7 linked regions of the Homo sapiens genome follow. The protein of the gene in region 2 purifies or fractionates together with the protein of the main gene of each other region. This does not show direct contact. Each region holds a gene or a part of one and is shown on either strand. Other genes may lie near its edges. The genes, in order: EXOG, CDH5, CAPN15, PTPRU, TBL2, VANGL2 and ST7.

Region 1 (3,500 bases), on a different chromosome or scaffold from region 2:
TAACCCTATTAAAAATGTTAGTTTTACATATGATGACGAGTCTTTAAAATAAATTCATTCAGTAATTCTGGTCCTTGAAATTTATCCTAAGGAATTGATACAACGTTGCATTATATAAGAAATGTTAACATAAGCCCAATTGTCCTGCAAGAGGAATGGTTAAATAAAGTATATCATCTTGTTGGAATGATACATAATTCTTGAAAGCTGGTTGGGAACTATGGCATAAAAAAAGTTTTAAGTTCATGAAATTTGAATTCCAGAATGTACTCTGAGCGCACATAAAGAAAAATGTAGATAGTTTTGTTAGTGTATGTGATTTTTAAGTTTTTTCTGTGCAGTAAGCAAACTGGGAAAATAATTGTTTATATGCTTATAATGTTTTGTGCCATGTTCTTGTTTAATTTCTCAAATGCAGTTTTTCTTGGTATCTTTCATAGGAATTGATATGATTTGCTGCTGTCTTACATGTATATATGTGAGAATATCATACATTTTTTTATTTGTTTTTCAGAATAGAAATGTACTGTCGAGAGCTGACAGAAAGGTTTGAAGATGTTTGGGTGGTATCTGGGCCTTTGACCTTACCTCAGACTAGAGGCGATGGAAAGAAAATAGTTAGTTACCAGGTAAGGATGTTTAATAGTCAGGTTTATGTTATCTGTATGAGATTATAATCTCACTTTCCATTCTGCTTTTTATTTTTATTTTTATCATTCAAAAAAAATTTTGCATTCTACTTTTTAATTTCACTTATTCAACAATATTTATTGAACACCTATTAGGAATGATAGGCATAGGGAATATAGTGATGGATAAAAGCAACTATTGACTTCAAGGAACTCACGGTTTAGAGTGGAAAACAGATGTTAACAATTAATTACATTAAAGTGTGACATGCTGTAATAGAGGTAAACACACACAGTGTGGTCTTGTGAAAGGACTGATGGGCTCTACTCATATGAGTCAGGAACGCTTAAAAGAGGAAGTGATATTGAGCTATACCTTGACAGATAAGAGTCAGGAGTGGACCCTGAGGATTCCAGAGGATGGAGCAGGATGAGCACAGGACATTTGTGGTCAACATCAGGGTTTTGAGATTTATATATCATTCATAAAAATTGGAGCTTATGGTACAAAACAGTGTGGGTGGCTCAAGGGGTATGAAGAGTTCCATAACAACAGGTGGACGGGTGAGATAATATGCGACTTTCTATTCTATGATGAAGACTTGGGTTTTAATTTTTAGGCACTAAGAAGTCATAGATTTGTTTTAAGCGTGGGAGAAATATGATATTTGGGTTTTATAAAGAGTATTTTGGCAGCAGCGTGTAAAGAGATAGGTGGGAAAAGGGAGCATTTGAAGAAGAGATTAGAGGCAAGGAGATGAGTTAGGACATACAAGCAGTTGGAGTGAGGAATAATAGAGGAACACAGGAAAGAGTAACCATGAATAAATAACTTGTTTGAGTGAGGAAGAGGGAGAAGTTCCAGGATAACAACTAGATTGCAGACCAGGCTCAGTGGCTCATGCCTGTAATCCCAGCACTTTGGGAGGCCGAGGCAGGCGATCACGAGGTCAGGAGTTCGAGACCAGCCTGGCCAATATGGTGAAACCCCGTCTCTGCTAAAAATACAAAAATTATCTGGGTGTGGTGGCGTGTGCCTGTAGTCCCAGCTACTTGGGAGTCTGAGGCAGAAGAATCGCTTGAACCCAGGAGGCGGAGGTTGCACTGAGCCGAGATCGCACCACTGCACTCCAGCCTGGGCGACAGAGCAAGACTCCACCTCGAAAAAAATAAAAATAAAAATAAAATAAAAACAACCAGATTACAGTGTTACAGTGAGTTGAATAAATGGGAAGAAAAGCTTTTCTTCTAGAAGCTTCTTTTTTTTAATATGCAAGATATGTGAGCACTTTTATAGACTGAAAGAGAGATTAAAGATAGGAGAGTGTAATTAGTGGTGTGAGAGCTTCAGACATCTAATGTTGCTGGGAAATTCTTAGCTAGCCTTTCATATTGGCAATTTACAAAGTGGTATACCTGAAGAGCAGGTGTTCTTAGAAAAAGTTTAACATTTAATCTTATCATGCAGAAATATCCTGAGGATTCTTCCAAGAGGGTGGCTGAAATGTTATACTATACTGTGAGGCTTACAGAGGGCAGGGAACAGGTGGAGTGAAGCAGAAGAGGTGGTAGAGTGAGTAAAAAGAAGCACTGAAGGACTTGCTAATAAGGCCAAAGAGGAGGGGAGGGAACACCTAGCTCAGCTCTGGAAATAAAGTAGATATTTAATAAATGCTGGTTAGGTAAATGATTACTTAAGTCTGTGATAAAATTTAATAACCTGAGGAACAGATTGAGGAACCACCCCCCCCCCAAAAAAAAACCAAAACTTTTAGAGTATATTCTGTCCATTTGACTTGCTTATTATCAGCCTGTCTAGATCAGATGTGCAGTAATGTCCAAGCATCCAAGGATTTGTATAGGTCCATATGAATAGCCCACTTTCTCTTTTTCCACACAAAATTATGACCCAACTACTTCTTTTTGTTAAGTGGAAATGATAGAGTAGTTGTTTTCAAGGATTTGTACATCCTTGGAAAATTCCAGTAGATATGGGAGTGAAGGAAGTCAAAGGAATTAGTATTTTAAAATTAATTCATTTAATATCTCTCCTCCCATATTAATTTCTCTCCTCTGATTAACTTGCTAATTTAATTTTAGTATATTTTATAGTCTTAGGAGAAAAAAAGGCTTAAAGCCCCCTGTATTATTTTTCAAATATTAATTATTCTTGGTCTTTGTTAAATCCTGTTTATTTTATGTCAGAAAAGAGGCTCTTCTAGCTTTGACTTGTATATCTTAAATGGTTAAATTACAGTTTTATTTGTGCTTTGTTTTTATAAAATTGAAAAATTTATATCACTAGCCTACTGTGTAGTAGAACAAAAATTTGTACAATGTTTAAAACGAAAAATTAACCAATAATTACAAGCATTTCACTACATAGATTTTTGTGTGGCTATTTCTGTAAAATATGTGTTGCCCAAATGCCGTAGTGGAAAATGTATTGTTTTTCTTAAGTTGGATATAATTTTTAAAAATAGAACTGATAAAAATATATCTTCTAGTTGTTTCTGCTGAAAAGGCCCAGAAGAATTGGTATGTCATTAGCAATGAACACATCTTGAGACCCAGATATTTGTTTCTAAAAAGCATCTCCTGAAAAGACTCAGCGCTTAGAGAAATGACTGATTTAAGGGGTGGTACAGGGAGAGTACAAAATGGAACATCATATATCAGAAAGCCAAGGAAGTGCTCAGACAAATGGTGGGGATATGTCAGAAGGACATGTGAATCAGCTTGAAGGAGCTCCCACTTACTGTATCTGGTGCTATTGAATATCAAAATAAAATGGATTATAAACCTATTGAATTAAATAAGAATACATACTCAATAAATATGTAAATACATAGGGTGTAAAGAAAAGCTTCT
Region 2 (3,500 bases):
GTTTCAGCCCACATCTGAGTGCCAGCCACAGGACTGACAGGAGAGGGAAGGGAATTCCAGGCAGAAGTGCTGTTGCTGGTCTCTGGGTACCTCAACATCCGAGCCCACCTCTGTGCAGGCAGTGGTTGGTTTCCTTAAAGGAGCCCACCTCTCTGAAGCAGTCCCTTCATAAAATCTCTTCAATTGGCCTCCCAGGGTTCGCTCTGTTTCCTGCTGGGAACCCCATCTCTAATACAGTGAGCGGGAATGTGGTTTTCTCTTTCCTGGGGCCTATTGGGATGGGTTAGTGATCCCTAGGGCTGACCGCAGCCAGCGGTCAGATGGATAAATAGAGTCATGTGCTGCAAAATGACTGTTTGGTCAACAATGGACTGCACATATGAATGTGGTCCCCTAAGGTTTTAATGGAGCTAAAAATTCCTCTGCCCTAGTAACATTGCAGCCATTGTGACGTCACAGCACAAGCCATTACTCGTGTGTTTGGGGTGATGGTAGTGTAGACCAACTTTATAAAAAATGTTATATTAGGTTGGTGCAAAAGTAATTGTGTTTTATTTATTTATTTATTTATTTATTTATTATTTTTTCCTTTGAGACAGAGTTTTGTTCTGGAGTGCAGCGGTGTGATCTCAGCTCACTGCAACCTCCGCCTCCCAGGTTCAAGTCATTCTCCTGGCTCAGCCTCCCAAGTAGCTGGGATTACAGGCGCGTGACACCACGCCCGGCCAATTTTTTTTTGTATTTTTAGTAGAGACGGGGTTTCACCTTGTTGGCCAGGTTGGTCTCAAACTCCTGACCTCAGGCGATCCGCCGCGTCAGCCTCCCAAAGTGCTGGGATTGCAGGCGTGAGCCACCGTAGCCGGTGGCTTTTTTTTTTTTTAGACGGCAACAACAGCAATTACTTTTGCACTACCCTAATAGTAAACTAATTTCTTATTGACGAAAGAAAAATATTTTTAAGTAAATTTAGTGAAGCTAAGTGTACGGTGTTTATTAAGTCTACAGTAGGATACAGTGACGTCCTAGGCCACTCACCACTCACTCCCTGACTCACCCAGACCAATTACTAGTCCTGGAAGCTCCACTCATGGTATGTACCATAGAGAGGTGTACCATTTTTTATTTTTTTATTTTTATTTTTATTTTTTACTTTTTTATTTTTTTGAGATTGAGTCTCCCTCTGTCGCCCAGGCTGGAGTGTGGTGTGAATGCGGCTCACTGCAGCCTCAAACTCCTGGGCTCAAGCAATCCTCCCACCTCAGCCCCACAAGGAGGTATGTGCCAGCACATCTGGCTAATTTTTAAATTTTTTTGAAGAGATAGTTGGGGTGGAGGGGTTTGACTATATCGCCCAAGCTGGTCTTGAACTCCTGCCTCAAGTGATCCTCCTGCATTGGCCTCCCAAAGTGCTGGGATTACAGGCTCCTTTTTTATCTTTTACATGGGAATTTTATTGTATCTTGTCTGTATTTAGATATGTTTAGATACATCAATACTTGCTGTCGTGTTAAAATTGGCTACAGCATTCAGTACAGTACCATGCTGCACAGGTATGGAGCCTAAGAGCAATAGACTGTACCGTACAGCCTAGGTGTGCGGCAGGCTATACGATCCAGATTTCTTTGTGTAAGCACACTCTCTGATGTTTGCACAACAGCGAAATCACCTGAACTCGTTTTTCAGAATGTGTCCCAGTCATTAAGATGCACATCACACACCGGGGCCTGTCGTGGGGTGGGGGGAGAGGGGAGGGATAGCATTAGGAGATACACCTAATGTAAATGACGAGTTAATGGGTGCAGCACACCAACATGGCACATGTGTACATATGTAACAAACCTGCACGTTGTGCACATGTACCCTAGAACTTAAAGTATACTAATAAAAAATAAATAAATAAAATTAAACAAAGAGAAAATTTCAGGGTGAAGACGGTCAAAACTAACACATTCAGAATAAAATGAGGTTCCTTCCTTGATTTGAAAAAAAAAAAAAAAAAGATGCACGGCTGTACCTACACCAGACTTCAGCAAAGCAGAGTCCACCAGTCACAGGCTCGGACCACGTGGCTCCTGGGGGGACATTAACTCCTCAGTGGGCTTTGTCTGGCCCCACATAACAAAGCGTTCTCTGAAGGTGCAGAAAAGCCCCTTGGATTCTGTTGTGTGTCCAGCAGGGGCCCTGCTGCTAGCTCTGGAGAGAAGTCCCTTGGAGCACATGGGCCACCCTCAAGCTCCTTCCCTCTGACAGGGCTGAGACTGGCTCTCGCAGAGTCACCTCACAGCAGCTGTGTGTCATTTGCCAGGGCAGAGGGAGGTCTGGGTGCTCAGCTCTCATCAGTCAGCTGTTGGTGAGGGGCAGGACCTTGGGTTGGGGGCATTTGGGAGCTTGGGATCACATAATCCCATTTGCACCCCCATGCCAGAGCCTTGAGCACCCTCCCGAGACAGCTCTTTCTCGCCTGGGACGGTGGAGGAGGGCTGACATCCCTGAGCACTCCCCCGAGGCACACGTTATTTTATTTAAACCTTGCAACAACCCTTCTAGGTAGTTGTCTGCGTTCCCATTTTGCAGGTAAAGAAATGGGGGCTCAGAGAGGTAGCGTAAGTCATCTCAGTTCACATAGCCGGAGGCAGTGGAGCCAGGATTTGAACTTAGGCTGTCTTTCCCCCAAATTAGTGCTTTTTGCGTCATGCCACTCTCTCTATCTCTGTGGTGACATTCACATGTAATAATAATGAACTATTCTCGGTGCTTGGTCTTCATCCATGCCAGCGCATTTAATTTTCACACTATCCCCAGGATGTAAGACTTATCATTCCCATTTCACAGATTAGGAAACTGAGGCTCAGAGACAAACAACTCATGAATGGTTGTCATCAGATCGATCTTTTTCTAAATCCTAGGCTCCTTCTATACTCAATCTCAGAGACACCTGTGGGACCTTCCCATCTGAAAAGCCACATTTATTTGTGTCTTTTGCCCTTTAGGTTAGAAATTTGGCCACTAACTTTGGGAAACTGTGGCGGGTGGATCACTTGAGGTCAGGAGTTCGAGACCAGCCTGGGAAACATGGTGAAATCCTGTCTCTACTAAAAAATACAAAAATTAGCCTGGCATGGTGGCGCATGCCTATAGTCCCAGCTACTCGGGAGGCTGAGGCACGAGAATCGCTTGAACCTGGGAGGCGGGGGTTGCAGTGAGTTGAGATCCTGCCACTGCACTCCAGCCTGGGCAACAGGTGACAGAGCAAGACTTCGTCTCAAAAAAAAAAAAAAAAAAATTGGCTAACCAAAATGGGGGCTGCAGGGAAGGGTCTTGTTGGACAGATGTTCCTTCCCATCATGATGCAGAGGAAACCGGGCCAGTCAGATCTACTGCAGCCACAGCTGAAAACTGAATTTCTCTTGGCTGCAGCCTCTGGAGATGTGGTCATAGCCCTTTTTTCATTTTAGCCTGTTTCCTTTCGGCAGGTAAGAGTCACATCTCTCGGTCGTTCT
Region 3 (3,425 bases), about 66 Mb from region 2:
CCCAGCCCCCAACTCCGTCCAGGGAGACAGCAGAGCCTCCGAGCGGGCGCTTTGCTCAGCAGCACCCGTGTGGGGGCAGAGGCCACCCTGGGACGAGGCTGGGAGGGGACAGGAAACTTTTCTCCCCACGCGCCCCCTCACTCCATCTGCTCCTGCCGGGTGACTGATGGGTTCAGACAGAGCCCCCCGTGCGGATGCCTCGCTGGAAGAAGCTGCATGCGCTGCTGTCCCGTCTGCCCAGTCCTTCCCGGCCCTGGGGCTGCGGCCGCAGGGTCTGACCCCTGCCCCCGCCCAGTCACTCCGTCCTTCCTGGCTGCGTCCATTTGGCAGGGCCGGCTGCCCCTTACAAGCTTGTGAGTCACCCCACCACGGCCATCTCCAGGGGCCCCCACCCGTCCGCCTGCCCGGGATGCCTGGGCAGGGCCTACCCCTCAGACCTGCAACCTCCCCGCCCTTCCACAGGGCCCTGCGCGGGGCAACAGCAGGAGGAGGAGGCGTGATTACAAAACAAAACGCTTTTATTTGGTCCATTGGAGCCTGAGTCGGAAGCCACTGTGGAGAATCCTATGGTAAAGGAACGGGACTGACAATTGATAAAATAGTCTCTGTGTCACAAGAGCTGGCCGTATTTACAGGGTTAAAAATATTCACAGCTCAGAGTACAGGGAGGCCAAAGGGGAGTGGGAATGTTTCTCCAGGTGAAAAGGCCCCGGAAGCCCCTGCCGGGGTAGGAGGGGGAGTGGGGGCGAGGCCGGCCCGCTGCCGGGAGTGAGGGGCCAGGAGGGCACGCAGAAAGCTGGGCTCAGACGTCCACACACTCCTGGGCTTCTGTGGGGAGGTGGGAGCGGCTGAGCCCTGCCCGTGCCCACGATGTGCTGGGGTCCCTCTCTGGCAGGGCCGGGCCGAGGGACAGGGTTGGCTGAGGAGCCTGCTGGTCCCAGTGTGCCCGGCAGCAGTGAGCGGTGCTGAGAACTGGTGCCCACCCACAGCGGGCCTGGCGCCCGCCTGCACCCAGTCATGGCTTCGATCCTGGCGGGCACTCCAGGATTTGCATAGTGTCGCTGGGGGGCTGGCCAAGGGCCCCTTCTTCTGAGACAGGCACCGCCCCGGGACTCGCCGCTCCACACCAGGGCTCCAGGGACCCCGCCTGCCCTGTGGGGGACAGGGACCCGGGCTCTGGGGGAAAACTGACCTTATGCCCCGTGAGGGGTGGTCCCTGATCCCACCCCAGGGTCTTGGCCTCTGACACCCAGATTTGGTTTTGCGGACAGAGCTCCTGGCTGCCTAGCCCGCAGGAGACCCTGAGCCCACAGGGAGGGGCAGCCTGGCCTCGGCCCCCGTCGGGTGTTGGGGCTGGCAGGTGAGCGGGGCTGGTTCACAGCCCGCCTGGTTCGAGGTATTCTGCGTGGCGGCCAGGAGGCCTGGCCAGGCGGACTGTGGGGTTCAGGGAGGGGAAGGAGGGGGGCGGGGGGCCCATGGGAAGCTGAGCCCTGGGCTGGCAGCTCCCTGGGCGGGGTCCTGAGATTCTGGCTCAAGCGTCCTCTGTCGGGGTCTCCCTCATAAAGTGCGTGTGGGGGTGGGGGGTCCGTCTGTGCACAGCCCCTGCCCCAGGCATGGTGGTCACAGCGGTCGGGGCCCATGCAGACCGGCGACCTCTGGCGTGAGTGGGGGGCTGTGGGTCCCCTTGGAGGCTGTCCAGTCACTGAGGAAGGCCTGGGCTGCCTTGCGATGTGCCAGGCGGTGGGTGATAGAGAAGCCGGCGTTGCCCTCTAGCTGGGACAAGATCACCAGGACCTGCCTGGGGGAGGGGACCGGTGAGGACCTGTGGAGGGCAGGGTGGGGATGGGGGCAGGGCTGTGCCCACCTGTACAGGGGCAGGAGCAGGAGTGGGGTGACAAACACCCGTACAGGGGTGGGGGCAGGGGTATGAGCACACCTCTGCAGGGGTGGGGGGGGCATGGGTTGGGTGTGGGTGCAGCGGGGTAGGGGAGGGGGCACCTGTGCAGGGGTGGGGGGGCACGAGTTGGGTGTGGGTGCAGCGGGGTAGGGGAGGGGGCACCTGTGCAGGGGTGGGGGGGCAGGGGCGGGGGCGCACCTGTGCAGGGGTGGCACGCTATCCTGGGTACGCAGGCTGCCGCGTGTGGACACCACGTTGAAGCTGTCGGTGCAGTCACACTGCACGTGCAGGTAGGCCTTGGGGTGTCGGTTCTCCACCACCACGATGAGCCCCGCCCAACCGTGTGTCAGGTAGTAGCAGGTCATGCCCTCACGGCCCTGGGCACAGGAATGGCAGTTGTGGGGCAGGGGAGGTGCTGGGGCATACTCCCCCTGCCCCACGCCACCCTCCCCCGGGACCCCCACCCACCTCGTGCCGCTCTCCGCGGCTCTCGGTGAGCAGGATGATGGCGTCGGCCAGCGTGGTCGGCTGGGCTTCCACGGGCTCCACCATGACCAGCCTCGAGCTGTACACAGCCAGCACGTGGCCCGGCGGCTCTGGGGAGGCTCTCGGGACCCCTGCCGAGGGGCTGGAGGCTACAAGGACGGGCGTGTGAACCGCAGCCCTCCCCGTGGGCCTGGGGCATGAGCCTGGGGTAGGGGCCACGTACCCTGGGGGGCAGGGGTGCCCGGCAGGGGCGGCCCCCAGTGGTTGAAGGCGCAGCACACCACAGCGTACTCGCCAGGCTCCAGCATGACGTCGCAGCTGACGAACTTCTTGACCGCGCGCTTACTGTGGGCCAGGAGGCGGCCCAGGCTGAGGTGGCCGCCGCTGCCGAACGTGGCCCGGAACACCAGGATGCACAGGTCCAGCAGGTGGCTGTCCACGGCGTCCGAGCGCCTGCGCCAGACACCACGGGCCAGGGTCACGCGTGGTCACGGCCGCCAGCCTAGCCCAGCCCAGCCCGATGGGGCCCCGCAGCACCCACCTGCTGCCCTCCTGGAAGAGCGCGAACTCCAGCGAGGCCCGCTCCAGCACCGTGAGCGCTGTTACCCCCACGGGCGCGCTGGCCGAGCTGGGAAAGCAGCCCTGCACCCGCGCCTCCTGCCAGTCCGAGTGCACCTTACAGATGTCCACGGAGTCGAAGTACCTGCAGGTGGCGGGAGGACGGGGCCCTGAGCCTACCACGGCCCACACCTCCGTGGCTCAGCGCCTACCGCAACCACAGGCCGGTGACCCCAGCAGGTGCCAGCTGCTCCGTCACCGTCCTCTTGCAGCCCGGCCCCCGGGGGCCCATCCCTGAGGCCTATAATAGGAAGCCCTCCAGGGCCGGCTCTTCAGGGCGCTGGAATCTGCTGACCTGGGTGGACCTGAATTCTGAGGTTGGCACCTTGGAGCTGAAGCTCCAGGTCCCATTTGGGCCACGAACAAGCCGCCCCACCCCAGGTCAGCAGGAGGGACAGGCTTGTTCTCCAGAGAAGGACTCGGC
Region 4 (3,500 bases), on a different chromosome or scaffold from region 2:
TCTCCGTCCTCCTAGGGCCTCTCACGCTGCTACCAAGCCCTCAACCAGACCCGCTCTCCTACCCCCACTAAATCCCGGGCCCTAAGGGGCACCTGGCTCCAAAGGCTGACCCCGCCCTCGCCCATCAGCCCACAACCCCTCTCTCAGGCCCCTCCTAATCCCCCACATCCTCGCCTCCTGGAGCGGACCGCAGGCCAGCTAGGATCAACACAGAAGTCACACAGCCAGAACCCCACCCCTCTTTAGGCTCTCACCTTGACCCTGTCCGTCCCCCTCGAAGCCAGCCCCGACCCCTAGATCAGATCTCATCCCGGCTGGGCCACTGCCATTTCCACAGGCCCATCTTCAGATAGCGCCCCAGCGACACCCTGCCGGCCCCACCCCCCACGGCCACGCCCCCGGGCAGAGCCCGCCCCCGTCGCCGGCCCCGCCCCTCGAGGGTGAGGTCCCGGCGCTCCCCGGCGTCCACCAGCTGACCCTTGACGATGAGCTCCGCGAAGTTAGAGACGCCCGCGCCGCGCGGGGCCTGGGACACACAGCGGTACAGGTCCTGCTCGGCGCGGCTCACGGCAGCCAGCGGGAAAGTGGCCAGGAAGCGCCGGTGGCTGATGTGCCGCACGCCCGCCGCCGGCACCAGCGCCCCGCTCTGCCGCTGCAGGGAAGAGAGTGAGGGGGTCAGGGGCGCCTCGGAGCGAGGGGTCCCGATCTCGCTCTGACCCGGGCCCCATTTAGCCGTCCCTACTACACCGCGCGGACATAGGTTCCTGGAGCCGCGCTCTAACCTGGGGGAATGGGGGACCCAAGAAAGCGCAGAGCAGAGCTAGGGGAGGGCCGGGACGCTGTGCGCAGTGCTGGAGTATGAAGCAGGGACTCAGCAATCTGGGGGGAGTCAGGGCCAGAAGCAGCCACCAACCCCCTCCCACCCCGCCCCCAGCCAAGATCACCGCTCCCGCTCACTTGCAAGAGGAAGCGTTCGGCCTCGGCCGCTCTGCCCGCGGCCATGCACTGGAACGACGCGTTCTGGCCCGCGTTGACCTCCACGTCGCCCAGGCGGGAGAAGTGTGGGGCCTTTGCTGCGGGGTTAGAGCTGCATCGTGAGCTGGGCCTGCACCCCCTGCAGGCAGGAGCCGCGGCCGCCCACACCCCTTACCCCTGCGCCCCCAGTGGGCTGGGACTCACCGCAGGGGTAGCTGAGAAGCAGGATGTCATCTAGGCCCATGTAGCCCCTGCGGTCTGGGGAGATGAGGGCCTCAAACAGCACCTGGGGGAGGCGGGAGGGCCCCTATCATACTGATATTCCTCCAGCCTTGCCTGGGGAGGTGCCCACTTTCAGCTCGGCCTCAGCCTCCTCTGCCTCAACTAGCAGAGGTCAGCCCAGCTCACACTGACCCTCCCTCCCAAGCCAGCTAGTTGGGGGTGGGGTCCCAGCGCCCATAGTGAACAAGGTGGAGGCCAGTTTCCACCCAAATCCTGGACAGTTACCCTCAAGCAGCCAGACAGAGTTTCCAGGTCAGCACTGTTCCAACTCACCCTTGACCTGGGCCAGAGGCTATTCCTAGGAACAATGACCTCAGATGCTGAACCCAGACTGGCCCCAGACTGACCCCTGGCCTTGACCACAGGTTGCCTCTGATACTGAATGCAGACACATTCTAACTTCAGCCACTCATCTACTCCAACCTCAATTTGACATCCATCTGCCCCACCTCCAGGCACAGGCTGACCGCTGACTGAACCCAGCCCACCTGATATTCATTGGGCCAGAAAGTGCTGACAGCCAGCTCAGCCTGGTGCCACTGACGGCCGTGGGATCCAGTCATATTCCACACAGCACTGCCCAGGGGGCCCCCATTAACGCGCACGTAGACGCCCAGGGTGCCCGGGCTGTGCCCGTCCCGGCTGTACAGGAAGTAGCTGAACTGCACACAGTGGGTATCATTCTCGCTCAGGCTCTGGAAGATGACATGGGCTCGCTGGCCTGGGGCATGCTGGGAAGTGTTGACCATCAAGTAGGAGCCTGGAAAGAGAGGAGGAAGAGGCAGGAGATGAGGAGACCTCAGGGGAGGGACAGGGCCAGGGCAAGGGGAGCACTGAGGAGGACTCCAGGCAACGGGACCCACCAGGAGTCAGGGATTCTGAGTTCTGGCCCCAGCTCCACCTCCCTGGGTGAGTCCCTTCACTTCCTAGCATCTGTTTCCCACAGGAGACCTGGAGCAGTAAAAAACACACAAACCTGACTTTGTCAAAACCATTTAAAGGCTGGGCGCGGTGGCTCACGCCTATAATCCCAACACTTTGAGAGGCTGAGGTGGGTGAATCACCTGAGGTCAGCAGTTCGAGACCAGCCTGACCAATATGGTAAAACCCTGTCTCTACTAAAAAAACAAAAATTAGCAGGGTGTGGTAGCATGTGCCTGTAGTCCCAGCTACTCGGGAGGCTGAAACAGGAGAATTGCTTGAACCTGGGAGGCAGAGGTTGCAGTGAGCCAAGATCACGCCACTGCACTCCAGCCTGGGTGACAGAGCAAGACTCGGTCTCAAAAAGAAAAAAAAAATTATGGCTCCTTACAATCTACAGGTCACAATGCCCATGCCCAGCCTAACCACAGCTTTCCCCATGTTCTGAGCTATCCCTGGAGACAGGGACTAGGTCATTCATCCCTGGAGTCAAGAGCTTGGCACACAACAGTCCCTCAAAGGCCACCCCTTCCAAAGCCCTCCCTCTGCCTCCCACCCTGGGCTTCTCTCCTGCCCCCTGGGTCATTACTAAAGTGCCTGTGTGTCTCCCACCAGGCTGTGAGGCCTCAGGACGCAAGCTGAATGAATATGTAGAACAGAGATTGAATGAAAGGATTCCAACTTCCCTTCCAGCCCCCATCCCTGAGTCTAAATTCCTGGAATACAAATCCCCTTGACTTCCAACCTGGAGAAAGGCAGCCTGTCCCTTCCCCAGAGACCCAGGCTGGGTACTGGTGGAGTAGAAGTGGACTAGGCTGGCTCAGGACCTGGCGGGGGGATTTGGGCTTCCCAAAGGGCACCCGAAACCACCCAGCGCTGCCTCCTCCCGGGCTTGGCTGCCAGCCAACACAAGCTCACTCAGATCCCCGCTCCAGGAGGGCTCCCCAGGGACTCTGCTGGAGGCGATCTCATTCATCTCTGTAAGCTAGAAGCCCTATGGAGGCGGCTCCTGGATCAGTCCCAGCAGGGCAGTAGTAAACTAAACTCAAGTCCCCATCCCCACCCAGGAAGGGGCACTTCTCAACCCCCAACACACTCCCTCTTGGCCCACTCATGCTACTTCTCTCTCCTCTCCCTGCGAGCAGCTGTGTGCATCTTTCTCCCTCTTCCAATCTGACACTTTGTTCTTTCCTCCTCCTCCTGCTCCCTCTGCCTCCTCCTCGGCTCACTACATCCCTCCCCTTCTCTTTCATTTACTCCCTTTGTCCCTGTCGCTCTTCCTTCTCCTCTCTCCATCTCTGAGTGTGAATCTCCCTCCTTTC
Region 5 (3,936 bases), on a different chromosome or scaffold from region 2:
ATGCCTGTGATCCCAGCATTTTGGTAGGCTGAGATGGGAGGATTGCTTGAGCTCAGGAGTTCGAGACCAGCCTGGGTAACATAGTGACACCCCATCTCTACAGAAAACTTTAATTAGCTGGGCATGGTGGTGTGCGCCTGTGGTCCCAGCTATTCGGAGGCTGAGGAGGGAAAATTGCTTGAGCCCAGGAGTTCAAATGCAGTGATCGTGCCACTGTATTCCAGCCTAGGCGACAGAGTGAGATTCTGTCTCAAAATAAATAAATAAATAAATAAATAAAAATAAGGGAGATTGAATTGGATGAGATATCTACAAAGTGACAAGCAAAAGTACCGAACACAAGCATTAAAGGCTCTATGGAGGCCGGGTGCGGTGGCTCATGCCTGTAATCCCAGCGCTTTGGGAGGCTGAGGCAGCTGCTGGATCATTTTTTTTTTTTGTTTGATACAGAGTCTCGCTCTGTTGCCTCAGTCTCGATCTCCTGACCTTGTGACCTGCCCGCTTCGGCCTCCCAAAGTGCTGGGATTACAGGCGTGAGTCACCATGCCCGGCCCGGCAGCTGGATCATCTTGATGCCCAGGAGTTCCACCAGTCTGGCCAACATGGTGAAACCCCGTCTCTACTAAAAATACAAAAATTAGCCGGGCGTGGTGGCAGGCGCCTGTAATCCCAGCTACTCAGGAGGCTGAGGCAGGAGAATCACTTGAACCCAGGAGGTAGAGGTTGCAGTAAGCCAAGATCGCACCACTGCACTCCAGTACCTGAAAGAACTCGGGGATGAGAAGTCAACATCTGTTGAGTCCTGTGCGGGGGAGTGGAGCCAGTCACTTTTGTAAAAGATACTTAATTGAGTCACAAAGCTGGCATGTGGTAAATGACTGCAGATGCTCCCCAATTCCAACAGGAAAAAAGCTCCTGGGCCCTGCAAACAAACACAGCCACAATCTGTCCTCTGCTTCCTTCTCTCCAGGCATGTCTAACAAGCCCCCCTCCTCACACTTAAGTCATACCAAATGCTGTTTGGGGACTCCTTGCCTTCTCGGGTATTGCCATTGGCAGGAATGTCTTTTTTCCTTGGCCTTCTGGCAAACTCTTCTTCTAGAACCATCCTTTGAGACCCCACACTACCTCATGTGCCCCCTATTCTCAGTAATGATTTCCCTAACAACCACCTCCCCCATAAAAGAACAGGACTCGGCCAGGCAGGGTGGCTCACGCCTGTAATCCCAGCACTTTGGGAGGCCGAGGCAGGTGGATCACAAGAGGTTAGGAGATTGAGACCATCCTGGCTAACACAGTGAAACCCCGTCTCTACTCAAAAAATACAAAAAATTAGCCGGGTGTGGTGTCGGACGCCTGTAGTCCCAGCTACTCAGGAGGCTGAGGCAGGAGAATGGCGTGAACCCAGAGGCGGAGCTTGCAGTGAGCCGAGATCCCGCCACTAGACTCCAGATTGGGCGACAGAGCAAAACTCCGTCCCCCTGCAAAAAAAAAAAAAAAAAAAATGCAGGGCTGGCCGGGCACAGTGGTTCACGCCTGTAATCTCAGCACTTTTGGAGGCCAGGACGAGTGGATCACCTGAGATCAGGCGTTCGAGACCAGCCTGACCAACGTGGCGAAACCCCGTCTACTAAATATACAAAAATTAGCCAGGCGTGGTGGTGTGTGCCTGTAGTCCCAGCTACTCGGGAGGCAGAGGCAGAAGAATCGCTTGAACCTGGCAGGCGGAAGTTGCAACGAGCCAAGATTGTGCCACTGCACTCCAGCCTGGGCAAGAAGAGCGAAACTCTGTCTGAAAAATAAATAAAAAGAGCAGGGCTGCCCACTGACTCTCTGGTGTTTCCCATTTCTAGTACTAACCTCTTCTATGAAACTTTTCAGAGACAGGCTCTTGCCGTCACCCAGGCTGAAGTACAGTGGCGCGATCTATCACAACTCACTGCAGCCTTGAATTCCTGGACTCACGACACCCTCCTGCCTCGGCCTCCCATGGAGCTGGGACTACAGGGGCGTGCACAACCACACCCAGCTAATTTTGCGTAGAGATGGGGTCTTGCTATGTTGCTCAGGCTGGTCCCAAACTCCTGGGCTCAAGCGATCTCCCTGCCTCGGCCTCCCAAAGTGCTGGGAATACAGGCGTGAGCCACTTCGCCTGGCCTCAGTGAAACTTATTTCACCGTGTTTTTCACTTACATATTTAGGTGTTCATAATACAGATGTACTTCTCCTTTACTGGACTCCTTACAGAAAAAGACCCCAAAGCCTATCACAGGGTCATAGATGCCCAGTAAATGCTGCTGCACATCACAGAATTGGTGCTTTTTCCGAGATCGCGGCCACGGAGCAGGCTGAAGAGTTTACGGTGCTCTCCTGGCCACCCCGGGGACGGCCTGGCCTCGGCCACAGAGAAAGCCGCAGTAAGGGGCCCAGGTTGGAGCCAGTCCCGCCCCAGGAGGTGCGCCTAACCCGGCAAGGCGGGTCCCCGTCTCTGGAAGCGAAGCTCACGTTACCAGAGGAGAAACTGAGGCCCATGGAGTCGCCGGGCCCCACCAGCCGCGGGCCCAAACCGCAGGTCGGACCACGAGGAGGCCGGGAGCCGGGACACCGCGGGCCGCCCCCACCCGACCCGGCCCCACTTACAGGCGGGCCGGCCGCTCCTCTCCTCCCCCGCGCGCAGCCACCCCCGCGCTACCGCCGCCGTCGCCATCAGGGCCAGCAGCCCAAGCAACACCGACAGCCCCATGAGCTCCGACATCTGCGAGAGCTCCATGTTGGTGGAACCACTGCCACCTCAGCTAGTGAGTACGCGGGCGCCCGCACGGCTCTGCCGGGCCGCGCACGCACGCGGGGGCGCGGCCTGGCCGTTGGGGAGCCTCAAGCGGCTGGGCCTGGCCGTTAGAGCGCCTGGGGGCGGAGCCTGGTTGTTACAACGCCTTCAGGGCGGGGCCTGGCCGTTAAAGCACCTCAAGGGGTGGGGCCCGGCTGTTGTGGCGCTCGAGGGGCGGGGCCTGGAGTTAGAGCATCTCCACCCGCCGAGCCTAGTTATTAGAGCGCCTCGAGAGGCAGAGTCTGGAGTTAGCGCGTCTCGAGGGGCGGGGCTGGGTTGTTAGAGCGTCTCGAGGGGCAGAACCCGGAGGTAGAGTGTCTCGAGGGGCGGGGCCTGGAAGTAGAACATCTCGAGGGGCAGGGCTCGACCCTTGGTGCGTTTCGAGGGGCGGGTCGCCTGGCGGTTGAGATTGCAGGGCTGCGGAGGGCGGAGGAAGGCGGGATTTGCGATCACTGCTCACGCCTCCTCCTGAAGAACTCACTGATAATTGTTTATTAAAGGCATTATTCCAGCCATCACCACACTGGATCCTTTCAAGGAAGCGGGGCGGGGATTATTATTACCATTTAACGGATAGGAAACTCAGCATCAGCGAAAGTTCAGATGGGCTTTTAAGGAAGAGTAGGCCAGGCGCGTGGAGTGGAACAGCCTCCGCAAAGACCTGAGAAGCTGGGATGTGGGAAATGGCTAGAGGGGCGGAAAGGTCTGGGGGACGTTGAGCGCTGGCTCCATCCAACAAGCTGCTCATTACAGGGAGAGGTGGGGCAAAAGCTGTGTCTGAGGATTCCCTGGATGGACCTTTGTGTGAAAAGACCAAAATCAGAAAACCGGCAGTGGCTTCAAGGATCCGAGAGGGAGGTGACGAGGGCCTGGATTTGGGGCTGGCCTGGCAAGTCGAAAGTTAAAAGGGAGAATTTTTAATAGAAAACTTATTTTATTTATTTATTTATGTATTTACTTTTGAGACGGTTGCCCAGGTTGGAGTGCAGTGACGCGTCTCGGCTCACTGCAACCTCCGTCTCCCGGGTGCAAGAGATTCTCCTGCCTCAGCCTCCAGAGTAGCTGGGATTACAGGCGCGTGCCACCATGCCCTGCTACTTTTTGTGTTT
Region 6 (3,500 bases), on a different chromosome or scaffold from region 2:
ATCTGGTAATTCCGGAGCCCTCATAGAGATGAGAAATAAGTCTCAGCCATCCCCAAAATGGTCCTGAGGACTCCCTTCTCCTCATCTACCTAAAGACTTCACCCCACACAGATGGGGCAGGTGGAATAGGAATGAGAGAGAAGATTATAAAAAGGAGGTGGTGAGGAGAGAGAAATGAGGTGGACAGTGAGGAAAGTAGTGAGAGAATAAGGGAAAATGAAGGTGGGAAAGAAGAGGAGCTGGGGAAGGAGGAAGGATGCTGGCAGCAGGGCAGGCCTACCTTGGGCGTCATGTCATGCGTGATGCAGAATTCAAGGTGCTGCAGGATGCTCTCCATGGTGTGGTAGGGCTGCTGCTTGGTGGTCCGAAGGTACTTCTGCATGGCACGGGCCATGGATGCAAAGATGGCTTGGGCTGCCTCCCGGGGGTCCATCACCTCCCTGGGGTTTTTCTGCTCCTCTTCCTGCAGCCGCTTAATGTGAGTGAAGGCCTCCTCCACCGCCACTACAAGCCTAGGGGACAGGAGGGGACTGGGCCAGATGCCCACCTCTCTTTCCCCCACCCCACCCCTCTCCCCTAGCTCCAACACTCCAGCAGCCTGAATGAGGTCAGGCCTTTGTGCTCACCCAAAGTAATACAAAGCCAGAGGCAATAGTGCCTTTCTGCCACTGGGAACAGTAAACAGCCACAGAGTTCAGTGGGCCCAGCCCAGGGACTCAGAGGGCAAACCTAGTGTCAAACCCAGAGAGACAACTAGGAACTATGCTATAGGAAAGACAAAGCATTCCACCAAACTTTAAGGAAAACCTTCTTAAATAAGACCCCCAAATCATACTTCATTGGCTCAACAATTAATAGATATGATTACATCAAAATGACAGATTTCTGTTCAACCATGACAGCATGGGCAACATTAACTGACATCTGATGGAGCTGGGGAAAATATACACATCTAAAACCAACAAGGGATTCAGATCTAGAACATGCAAAGAATTTGCTACAATTTCTATCAAGAAGAAAAAGACAGGAAACCTAGAGAAAAAAGGGCAAAGGAGGTGAACAGAAAATTCACAAGAGGACTGAAAGGCTAAAAGATATACGAAGTAGTTACTGGCTAGCAATTAGAGAGATGCAAATGAAAATGTTAGTAAAATATTACTTTTCCATCAAAATGGAAAAAAGAAAGAAGGTAACTATAAACCAAATATTGGATAGGATGTTGGGAGTATTCCATGAACTACTATGCAGCAAAAAGATGCAACAAACTAGATGTACAGACAACTTGGATGAATCTCAAAAACACAGTGTTAAGGAGGAAGCAGGAAAAAAAAATCCATTTACATTAAAAGCATATAGATGGCCGGGTGTGGTGGCTCATGCCTATAATCCCAGCACTTTGGGAGGGTGAGACAGGTGGATCACCTGAGGTCAGGAGTTCAAGACCAGCCTGGCCAACATGGCAAAACCCCATCTTTACTAAAAATACAAAAATTAGCTGGGCATGCTGGTGTGCATCTGTAATCCCAGCTACTGGGGAGGCTGAGGCAGGAAAATTACTTGAACCCAGGAGGCGGAGGTTGCAGTGAGCTGAGATCATGCCACTGCACTCCAGCCTGGGGGACAGAGCAAGACTCCATCTCAATAAAAAAAAAAAAAAAAGCATACATACAGACACACACACCAACACCAACAAAGATCACTACACTAACACTAACTTTGCACAAGGATACATATAGCTTTTAAGGAAGTCAAACACACTCAACAGGATGCCTAAAATGTGGCGCTGGAGTGAAAGTGGGAACTGGAGGAAAAGAAGAAACAGAATAAAGAACCATGAAAAACTCTATAATGACAATATGTTAGAAGCTGAAAAGAGCAATTAATGCAATTATCTGCACTTCAAGTCCAAAAACCAAAATAAAAGCCCCCTGGCCTAAGAGCAGGACCAGCCTGAAGTGACAGGACAAAGAAAGAAAGTGAGGCCTTCTATGCAGAACCCAGGAACCTGAGTCATTTCAGATGGGACTCTGGGTATATAGGTGTGGATCTGTGTATGTCTATCATTTCTTCCTTTATTCTCTTGCTTCCCCTACATTTCTCAGTAAATTCCCTTTGAAAAGATCCTTTTATCTCAGGTAAACAAAGGAAAAAGTTTGCTCCTGGTTAAAAGCAAGGTAATGGGGAAAGGAAAGAGTCCTCTATGTGCCAAAAATGGTGGTGGCAGTACAGGAGATTGGATGACCCTGGTCAGGGCAGAAGATAAAGGGGTAGGGACATCACTGGTTTCCTTCCCAAGTCTCAGGCCATTTCCAAGACAATTAGAGACAGGTTGGAATGCCACAGAAATGGAGTTGGTGATCTTTGTTCTACTACAGGGGATGCCAGCCTCAAATAGGAACAAGGTAAGGGCTACCTCTTGCCCTTGAAGCCTGGAGTTCATGTGGGAGATGGGGCGGAGGCCAGGTGCGTGGTCAAGTCCTGAGGCACTCTGCTCCTCCCTCAGGGAACTCCCGACAGACCAAGATGGAACCCGGCAGAGTAGGCACCAAGTAAGATTCTTCAGGGTTGACTAAATTCACTTAATAATATGAATAGGGAAAGGGAGAAGCTAGGATGGCATTTAAGAATTTACCAAAATATAGGCAATAAAACGTCATTTTTTGAAGGCAACAAAAGCACCATCTGGTGAGTCCTCTCAAGATCTACTGGCAGGCAGGCTAGTCTAGCCTGAGTCCATGCTGTTGCAGGTAAAGCTCACATCCCTTTATTGGGTCCCTACCCCACTGTGGCAGGCAGAATTCAAAGATACCCTCCACTTCTACCAGACTCCCATCCCCTCATTAGACAACAATCTTGGTACATTTTGCAGATGTAATTAATGTGCCAAGTCAGTGGCCTTAAAAGAAGACTGTCCTTTAGGGCCTGATCTCATCACATGAGCTCTTTAAAATCAGCATTATCTCCAGCTGGTGGCAGAGGTCAGAGACCTGTTTCTGCTGGAAAAAAAAGTGCACTACCATCATGTAAACTGCCTATGGGGCTATGTGACAAGGCACTGAATTCTCCCCATAATAATGAGCTTGAAAGAGAAAGCATAGGCTCAGATGAGAGTCCTCTTGATTTCAGCCTGTGAGGCCTGAGCACAGCCTCCAGCCAGCCTGCACCTGACCCATGGAACTGGGAGATAATAAATGTGTGCTGTTTCACAGCTGCTAAGTTTATGGTAATCTGTTAGGGCAGCAACGGAAAACAAGCACACACCCCCAACTCATGTCATCATTGCCCTATATTTCCAGCAGTTACAGAAGTTCCTTGGTCTTCCTCTCCCCATTCACCCAACAAGCACCTCCTCTCCTCTTCTCCCCCAGGGACCCACCTGGCCCTCCTCTTGCGCACCCTTCGCTCATGCTCAGCCTCCTCATAGTAGTACTCATTGTGACTGTTGTCCCGCCTCCGAGCTGCCGCTGCAATCACAGCCCGAGACTGGCCAGTGGAGTTGT
Region 7 (3,500 bases), on a different chromosome or scaffold from region 2:
CTAAGTATTAAGAGTCCAAACTGTAAAAAACATGTATACTCATTAAGTCCATGTATTATCTTGGTGCTACACTTTGCACTCAATGAAATTCATCGTAAGACACAGAATCCCAGAGCTAGAAGGAAACTTAATGAATGTAAAGCCATTATTTTACATATACAAAAACTCAAGCTCAGAGAAAAATGCATCATTCGGATTGCTTTATTAATGGCTGAGAAAAATATCTCCAAAAATAATTAAGGGCAACTAAGATGTCTGGGATACATTCTAAACTCAAAGCTGACATTAATCAAAAAATTGTCCTTTTATATATTCATAAACTGAACCACCATGCTTTAGATGCATATGGCCCATCATAGAATATATAAGATCTTGTAACAGCCTCTGACCACAATCTAAAGCTGCAAACTTAGATGGGGCACATACTCAGTAATGCATTTGATCAATTGTATTGTTCCAATCCCAGCTCACTAAATACACCGTAACTTGGATATTCATTCATCCAGTGAATGATAAGGACCTACTTTGTACAAGGAATTAACACTGGAAGATGAAGAACTAGAATCTAGAAGAAGTAATAAAACATACATATACAAAAAAAGATGCATATATACACAAACACTGACCCACATATATCACACACATATACCATAATTCATATAAGATAAAGTAACTGCAGGCATGCCATAAACAGCAAAATAACTAGAATTAGAACTGAAGCTTTAAGATGTGACTGAATTGTTGTAATTCCTTGTAAAACTTGAACGGATAAAGAGCTGTTTCTTTTGATGAGCAAAGAAAGTGTTTTGAGATAGAATCTACTCCTGGTGAAGATGCTGTGAACATTGCTGAAATGACAACAAAGGATTTAGAATATTACATAAACTTCATTGATAAAGCCGTGGCAGGGTGATAAAATTGACTCCAATTCTGAAAGTCCTACTGTGGGTAAAATGCTATCAGACAGCATCACATGATACAGAGAAATCTTTCTCTGGAAAGGAAAACCAATCCATGTGGCAAACTTTACGGTTGTCTTATTTGAAGAAATTGCCACAGCTACCCCAACCTTTAACAACCAGCACCCTGATCAGTCAGCAGCCATAAACATCAAGGCAAGACTCTCTACCAGCAAAAAGATTATGACTTCCTGAGGCTCAGATAGCATTTTTTTTTTTAGCAATAAAGGATTTTTAAATTAAGGTATATACATTGGTCTTTTAGATATAATGCTACTGCACTCTTAATATAATACAATATAGTGTGACTATAACTTTTATATGCACTGGGAAACCAAAAATTTCATGGGACTCACTTTATTGCAGTGGCCGGGAACCAAACTTGCAATATCTCCAAGGTAAGCCTGTCTTTTCTGCAGCTGAAAGGATCAGAAGGCAGCATGCCAGCTGGTCCTTGATAGATGGGTGGGATTTACAGATAGGGAAGAACATTTTAGACAACAGGCACAACAGGGGCAAAAGACCTATGTAAACTGCAACCAGACCCTCTAGAAGGGAAATCCAATTTTATGTAAATTTTAAGTAAATTAAAATCTAAATGTTAAGTAAATTTAGAGCAAAAATTCTCAACATGAAAAAATGCCAAAACTGAGCTGCAGCCTAAGTTCTATATCACGTCAACAATATAAGAGTTTTACATCTGTATTCATGAGCTTAATTAACACAAAAAAAAGTCTTCTAAATAACTTGACCAGGCACGGTGGCTCACACCTGGAATCCCAGCACTTTGGGAGGTGGAGGCAGTAGGACTGCTTGAGCCCAGGAGTTCAAGAACACAGGGGACCCTGTCTCTACAAAAAAAAAAAAAAAAAAAAAAAATTAGCCACGCACTGTGGTGTGCACCTGTAGTCTCAGCTACTAAGACTGAGGTGGCAGGCTGAGACAGGAGGATTGCTTGAGCCTGCAGGTTGAGGCTGCAGTGAGCTGTGACTGCACCACTGCACTCCAGCCTGGGTGACAGAGTGAAACCTTGTCTCAAACATAAGTAAATAAATAACTTTAAGCCTAGATCAGGCTATTACATTTGTTTTCCAAAAGGAATGAAAACGGATTTCAAAGATCTTTGAAAACTTGCTTTTCAGCAAATAGAAAAAGAATTGGAAAATCACTTATGCTGCTTTTTGCAAAAACAGCAAAGTTGCCCGTTTTAGGAAAAGGTGTTTAAATTCAGCAGCAAAAAACTTTATAACATAGGGTAGATGAGAAAGTGCCATCAACACCACTGTATAAGTTATGGTACTATTTTTTAAGACTCACCTATTTTAATAATATCCTGCATGACTGTGCCAATCTACAATTAATTTTCTGCCCTTTGGAAAAGTATTGCTTTATGATATTAATTCACTTGAAAACTGACAAGTAATATTATTTGGGGTCTTTTAAAAACCTTGTTAAAATTTCATTCTATTTTCAGTAAATCATAAAACTATTTTAACACTATTGTATCCAAATCAAGAGCAGAGCCTCAAAAATCAGTTACCAGCAGCTGGGCATGGTGGCACACACCTGTAGTACTCGCTACTAGGGAGGCTGAGGTGGGAGGATCCCTTAAGCCCAGGAGTTCAAGCCCAACCTAGGTAACATACTAAGACTCTCTTAAAAAACAAACAAAAAAAAAAACTATTATCAAAGCTAGCCACTATGTACTATTCCTATTATGTTCGTTTTCTCCCCTTTCTTTTTTAAAATTCATTTTCATTACAAGATGTGATTGCCAATGTTAAGGTTTCTCTGTATGGTCTAAGAGAATACTGTGGAATTCTTTGAACTATATCCCTACCCTAAATGGCACTGGCTCAATGCAACGAAGGTCACACGAGCCAAGCTGGTGGGAGTAGGGAAGTAGTATACCTCAAAAACAGCATTCAAAGCATTTTTACTTGGAAAACTACACGATGTAAGAGCTAAAAACGGTATGGTTGTTCATCAAAGTCCTTTTCTTTTATTATTTTAAATTAAATTCCACGATTAGCTCTTCTCTGAATCTGACCTGCACTTTCACAACTTTGTCCCTTTGTTTGGGAGGTCCACCTCTGAGTCCTCAATCATGGAATTCTCCTCATCCTCTTAGGCTCAATTCAAGAGAAGCTCTCACAGCCTTGCCCAGCCCCATCTTGCATATGGGAAGTTGTATTCTTGTAGTAAACTCCTTATTTACCCTGGGTTTTACAAACTCATTCATCTTTCTTATCATAGCACCTGTTATAGTACATTAGGAGGCATCTAAATTAAAAAAAAATCGAGTTAAGCTCATTTACCATAAAATATGATCAAATGAGGATTAAAATTGTCACAGATGGTCAAGATATTGAGAAGATACCAAGCAGATATCCAAGAATGACTCCAGAACACTTTTAGCAGATTCCATCCCCCTACAGGTACAGAGCTGGGCCTATGGAAGCCCTGGCTCCTGGCTGCCTGATTGTGATGGTGTCTTTGGCTTCCTTGAGGAGGAAGGGAGGCCTGCGCCATCTGCAACTC

Evidence for each region.
Region 1: the proteins of CDH5 (region 2) and EXOG purify together in Homo sapiens (affinity purification with mass spectrometry; 2 studies listed by BioGRID and IntAct, with this or other methods). This does not show direct contact.
Region 3: the proteins of CDH5 (region 2) and CAPN15 purify together in Homo sapiens (affinity purification with mass spectrometry; 2 studies listed by BioGRID and IntAct, with this or other methods). This does not show direct contact.
Region 4: the proteins of CDH5 (region 2) and PTPRU purify together in Homo sapiens (affinity purification with mass spectrometry; 2 studies listed by BioGRID and IntAct, with this or other methods). This does not show direct contact.
Region 5: the proteins of CDH5 (region 2) and TBL2 purify together in Homo sapiens (affinity purification with mass spectrometry; 2 studies listed by BioGRID and IntAct, with this or other methods). This does not show direct contact.
Region 6: the proteins of CDH5 (region 2) and VANGL2 purify together in Homo sapiens (affinity purification with mass spectrometry; 2 studies listed by BioGRID and IntAct, with this or other methods). This does not show direct contact.
Region 7: the proteins of CDH5 (region 2) and ST7 purify together in Homo sapiens (affinity purification with mass spectrometry; 2 studies listed by BioGRID and IntAct, with this or other methods). This does not show direct contact.

The regions. Positions count from the first base shown.
Region 1 is NC_000003.12:38,506,340-38,509,839, forward strand, and holds part of EXOG (nuclease EXOG, mitochondrial isoform 1 precursor), read left to right. Parts: intron 1-514; coding exon 515-629; intron 630-3,500. UniProt on the Homo sapiens protein: Endo/exonuclease with nicking activity towards supercoiled DNA, a preference for single-stranded DNA and 5'-3' exonuclease activity.
Region 2 is NC_000016.10:66,373,191-66,376,690, reverse strand, and holds part of CDH5 (cadherin-5 preproprotein), read right to left. Parts: exon of another isoform or gene 3,474-3,500; intron 1,091-3,473; exon of another isoform or gene 890-1,090; intron 1-889. UniProt on the Homo sapiens protein: Cadherins are calcium-dependent cell adhesion proteins. They preferentially interact with themselves in a homophilic manner in connecting cells; cadherins may thus contribute to the sorting of heterogeneous cell types.
Region 3 is NC_000016.10:551,712-555,136, reverse strand, and holds the end of CAPN15 (calpain-15), read right to left. Parts: intron 3,087-3,425; coding exon 2,925-3,086; intron 2,837-2,924; coding exon 2,607-2,836; intron 2,533-2,606; coding exon 2,366-2,532; intron 2,275-2,365; coding exon 2,096-2,274; intron 1,823-2,095; coding exon of another isoform or gene 1,799-1,822; coding exon 1,621-1,798; 3' UTR 501-1,620; downstream 1-500.
Region 4 is NC_000001.11:29,257,022-29,260,521, reverse strand, and holds part of PTPRU (receptor-type tyrosine-protein phosphatase U isoform 1 precursor), read right to left. Parts: intron 2,018-3,500; coding exon 1,746-2,017; intron 1,262-1,745; coding exon 1,180-1,261; intron 1,074-1,179; coding exon 958-1,073; intron 653-957; coding exon 478-652; intron 1-477.
Region 5 is NC_000007.14:73,575,780-73,579,715, forward strand, and holds the start of TBL2 (transducin beta-like protein 2), read right to left. Parts: upstream 2,801-3,936; 5' UTR 2,771-2,800; coding exon 2,641-2,770; exon of another isoform or gene 2,533-2,640; coding exon of another isoform or gene 2,511-2,532; exon of another isoform or gene 2,194-2,510; intron 923-2,193; exon of another isoform or gene 793-922; coding exon of another isoform or gene 762-792; intron 1-761.
Region 6 is NC_000001.11:160,421,064-160,424,563, reverse strand, and holds part of VANGL2 (vang-like protein 2), read right to left. Parts: coding exon 3,377-3,500; intron 513-3,376; coding exon 281-512; intron 1-280. UniProt on the Homo sapiens protein: Involved in the control of early morphogenesis and patterning of both axial midline structures and the development of neural plate. Plays a role in the regulation of planar cell polarity, particularly in the orientation of stereociliary bundles in the cochlea.
Region 7 is NC_000007.14:116,956,501-116,960,000, reverse strand, and holds part of ST7 (suppressor of tumorigenicity 7 protein), read right to left. Parts: exon of another isoform or gene 3,278-3,500; intron 849-3,277; exon of another isoform or gene 184-848; intron 1-183. UniProt on the Homo sapiens protein: May act as a tumor suppressor.